2 separate regions of the Homo sapiens genome follow, and region 2 is linked to region 1. The links come from fine-mapping of genetic effects on plasma protein levels. Region 1 holds a variant in brackets. A gene starts in the other region. All regions are shown on their reverse strands.

The links. PIP is the posterior inclusion probability: the model's chance that the variant is causal. Protein levels are from antibody-based Olink assays in UK Biobank. Linkage for the fine-mapping came from a reference panel and not from the study's own genotypes, which makes the PIPs less certain.
Region 2: it holds the start of CD300A, and the variant in region 1 is fine-mapped to the plasma level of the CD300A protein (UK Biobank, PIP above 0.99).

The regions. Positions count from the first base shown.
Region 1 is chr12:89,429,817-89,432,727 of GRCh38, reverse strand. All of the region lies in intron 9 of POC1B-DUSP6 (POC1B-DUSP6 readthrough), which reads left to right. All of the region lies in intron 10 of POC1B (POC1 centriolar protein B), which reads left to right. All of the region lies in intron 1 of LOC105369889 (a long non-coding RNA gene), which reads right to left. Among named protein-coding and RNA genes, the nearest start is that of DUSP6, 79 kb to the right of the region's middle. The variant A/GTA (reference allele first, on the strand shown) is at 1,294.
Region 2 is chr17:74,465,454-74,468,364 of GRCh38, reverse strand. CD300A (CD300a molecule) reads right to left here and starts at 1,731. Exons shown (of 7, transcript NM_007261.4): 1 at 1,622-1,731. The coding sequence starts at 1,661. It overlaps LOC124904056 (a long non-coding RNA gene), which reads left to right and starts at 591. Exons shown (of 2, transcript XR_007065899.1): 1 at 591-815. RefSeq lists an enhancer at 590-719 and silencers at 1,080-1,139, 1,180-1,239.

The DNA.
Region 1 (2,911 bases):
CACGTCCAAAATTTATTCTTTACCACTTCTCCATAAAATTTGCATCAGCATAGCTACATCATAACACAGCACATTGCTTAGCTTTATTTTTCTTCCTAACCCTTGTCACCTAGCATTACATCACATATCTACATATTTACTTTTCTCCTTCACCCACTAGAGTATAACCATGATAGCAGGGCCTCTTTATTCACTCCTTGAGGTAGGCAGAACAACCATTCCTCTCAAAAATATTTATGTCTTCATCCCCAGAATCTATGAAAATGTTTCCTTACATGGCAAAGAGGGCTTTGCCAATGTGATTAAGTTAAGGCTTTTTTTTTTTTTTTTTTTTTTTTTTTTTTAAGAAACAGAGTCTCGTTGCCCAGGCTGGAAGTACAGTGGCTCGATCTGGGCTCACTGCAACCTCCACCTCCCAGGTTCAAGTGATTGTCCTGCCTCAGCCTCCTGAGTAGCTGGGACTACGGGTGCATGCCGCAACACCTGGCTAATTTCTTTTGTATTTTAGTAGAGACAGGGTTTCACCGTGTTGCCCAGGCTGGTCTCAAACTCTTGAGCTCAGGCAATCCGCCCACCTCGACCTCCCAAAGTGCTAGGATTACAGGCATGAGCCACCATGCCCGGCCAAGTTAAGGCTCTTGAGATGGGGAGGTTATCCTGGATTATCTGACCGGGCCCCATATAATCACAAGGGTCCTTATACGGAAAGAGGGATTCATGAGAATTAGAGAAGATATAACAATTAAAGCAGTTATTGGAGTGATGCAGCCATGGGCTAAGGAATGTGGACAGCCTCTAGAAGCTGGAAAGGCAAGGAATGGATTCTCTCCTAGAGCCTTCAGAAGGAATGCAGCTTACTGACACCTTGTTTTTAGCCCCGTTAATCCTGTTTTGGACTTGCAATCTCCAAAACTATAAGATAATAAATCTATGTTGTTTTAAACCACTAAGTTTGTGGTAATTTGTTACAGCAGCAGTAGGAAATGAACACAGTCCTGTATCTCTGGCACCTGGAATTTTGCCTGGCACATAGGTGCTAAATAAAATAATTTTGCTTGAACAATTGGCATATATTCATTATCTTAGATCTTATGTAGAGATTATTGAAGTTTCCAATCCCTACTCTAAATTTTATCATTGAAAATAAATGATATAGTCTTTCTTTGAAAAATATTTGCTTTTATTTTTGTCCAAGGCAAAAGGCTTTTTTTGTTGTTATTCTAGTCTATTTCAGGCAGACGTTTTATACATACGTGTGTGTGTGCATGTGCGTGTGTGTGTGTGTGTGTGTGT[A/GTA]GTGATTTAAAAATCTCAGAACATCAGGAATAAAAAGGGCTTTAAAAGGCATTCAATTGAATTTCCTGATTTGATGTTTGTATATCTTTCACAATATCTCTGACAAATGACCTTCCCAAGTCTATTTTAGAACCTTCAATAATGGGAAACACTTTGGCTTAGATATTTTCTGCCTTTTATCTGTTTTCTTCTCTACTTACAGAATTAAACCAAGAGTAGAAATGTTAGTTGTAAACCAAAACTAACTTATTTTAACCAACTGATTGAATGTATATCTAAAGTTCAAGTCACTGATTATCTTTACATGTGAAATGCCTACTTTTGCACTCACATTTGTTAGAAAAATCCATCTGTTATTCAGCCAGAAGCTATCAAGTATGCCTTTAGGGGATAAAAATCTACCAGTGATTTGAAGTTAGATAATATATGCTTACATTGCTTCCTCACTGTACCTCTGAGAAGGCATTTAAGATTGTAATTTTTAATAGAAAATGGCATTAGTTTAACTTTGGGGGGTAATATTTCTCTTCAAATACTATCAAATTGCTAATATTTAATTTTTTGTGATTGGCTCAGCTGATGCAGGACAGTCCATTAAATTCAGTTCAACCAATGTGGAGCTTTGTCTGTGTCTCATGTGCTATGCCAAGCACCTGAGATGATAAAGTTACTGACCCCACATGAGGGGTTCATAATCTAATGGGGAATACGGATATGTAAACACAAATATAATAAGGAGTGAGAAATCCTCTACTGATGGCACGAAGTCTTGTGGGAGTGAAATGGCACTAGTGATTAATTCTGACTCGCCAGCCCAGAGGGTGGGTGGTGGAAAGGGTGGTGGTAGAAGGAGAGAAGAGGAAAGGAGGAAGGGGAGTAGATATAATGTATGAACTTTCGCACGTAGTTGAGCACCACAGTATCTTGAATATTCCTTTGTTAATTATGTAAATAATAATAGTTTAGATGTGTGGACCATGGTTATGTTGTTGAATGGTTAATTTTCTAATAAAAATGTGTTTGGCAATGCGAAAATTTTCAGTTTTCATTGATGCATTAAAATAATTCATCCTCAAAAATAAGTGACAAATGAAGATGTATGCATTAGAATTAACCATGGTATTTAAAGAACCTTTTAAGAGTCATTTGTCCCCAGGATGTGATATGTTTTGTATTCAGTTCTCAGGACTTTCGTAGTTCTTTGCATCAGTCAGATCTGTATCTTTTACTCCATTTCATTTGTTCAGGTGAAAAGTGAGTCCTTTTGACCTATATAGATAAGGATTTCTCAGCCCTTAGATTCATTCTTTGCCCTTGGTGAGGCTGCATTTCCCATCTTCAAGATGGCAACCATGGGGTTATCCAAAGAAGAACTTAAGAATAGTGATTGCCCTGCCATCCTTTTTGATAAAGTACTTCCCCAGAGTATTGTAAGCTCCATGAAGGAAGATACCATGTCTGACTTGTTCTTTGCTATAGCTCTAATGCCTACCATAGGAGGTCCTTATTTGTAGGATCAATCAATGATTGTATTACTATTGCTTCACTGTATCACACAATGTTAGCAATAGAAGTAAGAGGTGGGAAATGAGAACATGATATAATTTCTTCTTTTTAT
Region 2 (2,911 bases), not on the chromosome of region 1:
GGAGACCCTGTCTCAAAAAAATAAAAATGTTGGCCAGGCTTGGTGGCTCACGCCTGCAATCCCAGCACTTTGGGAGGCCAAGGTGAGTGGATCACCTGAGGTTGGGAGTTTGAGACCAGCCTGACCAACATGGAGAAAGCCCATCTCTACTAAAAATACAAAATTAACCAGGCATGGTGGTACATGCCTGTAATCTCAGCTACTCGGGAGGCTGAGGCAGGAGAATCACTTGAACCTGGGAGGCGTAGGTTGCAGTGAGCCAAGATCGCGCCACTGCACTCCAGCCTGGGCAACAAGAGCAAAACTCCATCTCAAAAAATAAATAAATAAATAAATAAATAAATAAATAAATAAAAGTAAAAATGCTTTGTGAATAGTCATTGGTGGATCCCTTCTTCCTAATAATGAGAAGCTCTGGTCCTTTTTCCCTGAGTCAGCAACAAGGCAGGGACAACCACTACCACTATGTCCGCTGGGCCTCACTCCGGCTGTACCAGCCAATGAGTCAATGGGAGAAAGAGAAACAGATATTAGACAGGAACTGAAACCTTCCCATGCACACCGACCCTATGAAACAGAAGAACACCCAAGAGAATCGCAGGAGCACCTGTTATGGGAGGATGACCCGTTTCCAAGTCAAGACACCAAAAGTAATAACCTTCCCACAGACAAGTAGTTAGCAAATATAATTGCAGAAAACCTCCGATCTGTAAGGAAAGCAACCACAAAGACGTACAATACCCTAGGACTAGGCCTGAGGAGTCTGCACAGGAGCTGTCTGAGGAGAGCGGTGGACGTGACTGAAGGCACAGCAGGTGACTCTGCGGGAGGAATCCCTGCGCTTGGACAGGGAAGACTCAACTCCACGCTTCTCCCTAAAGAAGATCTCAGCGCTTCTCTGCCCGATCTTTTCCCTCCTCGCCCTCCCCACCACCTTTTCTGTCCCCTCTGTCCCATATCCCCTTCTTGGAGAGGACTGACCCCTGGTTCTCAGGCCCATGCAGGGGCTAACCCCAGCCAAGGCTGCCTCGGGACTTCCCCCTGCTCAGGCCCCAGCCGCTGGGCTGCCCTGGTTAAATCTCCGCATTCCAGAGACTATCGATCTGCTCCCCACCCCGACCCTATCTCCCTCACCGCCCCACCCCCTCCTCCGTACCCTGCACCTAGTGAGGCCGGCATCTCCCCCACCCTCCCCACACCCCCCTCCTCCATACCCTGCACCCAGTGAGCCCGGCATCTCCCCCACCCTCACCACATGCCCCTCGCAGTCAGTGGCTGCCACTCTCCACCCACCCTGACACATCCTGCCTCTCGTCCCCCTTCCTGTAAGAATTCAACTGAAAACCTAAAAGGTCCCTTTTCTGCACCCACCCCTTATCACTTGCCCCGCTGTGGTTCAGCCAAGGTACGTGGGTGCAGAGCCGGGAGAGGCCCTGGCTCCTTCCTCTCCCAGGGGTGTGGACCTTCATCTGTCCATCTTATGTGGTAGACAGAGCGCACCGCATTCTGCGTTCTGCACGGAGTCCAGACTCGGGGCGTCTCGTGTGATACCTGCCCTGCGGCCCTGCCCCTCGCACCCTCCCTCCCTGCCGCAGACTTTCCCGGGAAGGGAAACTCTCACCTGGGACCCAGAGAAGCAACAGAGCCCAAGGCAGCCACATGGTCCCTTCCCCAGCACAGGCGGCACTTGCAGCAGCTCCAGGCCCTACCTGGACCCGAGGGGAAAGTCACGCCTCCAAGGCCCCGACTTCTGCTTTTCTTGGTGCCGCGCTGCTTCCTTGTTCAGCTTCTTTTGGTTCTATTCCTGGAGCCGGTCAGAAAATGCAGGAAGCTGGTGAGCCCCGACTAAGACTCCCTAGAAACGGCACGTCCTCCTTAACGCTGGTTGAGGCTGCAGGTTCTTCGGCTATTTCTAGTGATGAGACCTCTCCCTGTAGTGACTCCGTAGCTTGCAGGACTGATCCCCGACTCTCACTTCCCCGGGTCTCCTCCTAGTGGAAGGCCCAATAACTCCTCCCTCCTTTCCTTGTGGTCAAGGTGGGCAACCCTGGGGGTGGGACCCGCTGAGCTGGCTCCTCTCACCCTCGGTGGTGCCCACGAGGAGGCTGCCAGGGGGAACTCCCCTTTCCTGAGTCCCTTCCCTGAGTCCCTTGGAGGTCCAGGCCTGGGCTTCGGGGCTGAGGGAAGGGGAGTTGTCATCGTGACTCCAGAGTCCCTGAATGGTTCCTAGTCTTGGAAATGTGTCCTCAACTTGACACAGAGGTCCTCCGGCCATGCCTTCCTTTCTATATAGCCCCATTGGAGCCAACTCGGGGCTGGGCACAGAGCAGGGACTCAGCGAGCCTGCAAGGACCCCTTTCCTGATCCACACAGAGTGCAGACTCTAAACACACACACGCTCACACTCACATACACACTCACACCCACACACACTCACCCACACACATTCACAAACACACACTCACATACACACACTCACACTCACCCACACACATTCACAAACACACACTCACATACACACTCACACAAACACACTCACCCACACACATTCACAAACACACTCACATACACACTCACACAAACACTCACCCACACACATTCACAAACACACACAAACACACTCAGCCACACACATTCACAAACACACAAACACACCCACACATTCACAAACACACTCGCATACACACAAACACACATTCACACACCCACACACATTCACAAACACACACTCACATACACACTCACATGCACACATATTCACACACACCCACACATTCACACTCACACATACACACAAACACATTCACAAACAAACACGTTCATGCACATACACTCACATATACACACTCACACACACATTCACAAACACTTTCACAAACACATACACACACGTACACACAAACACATACAC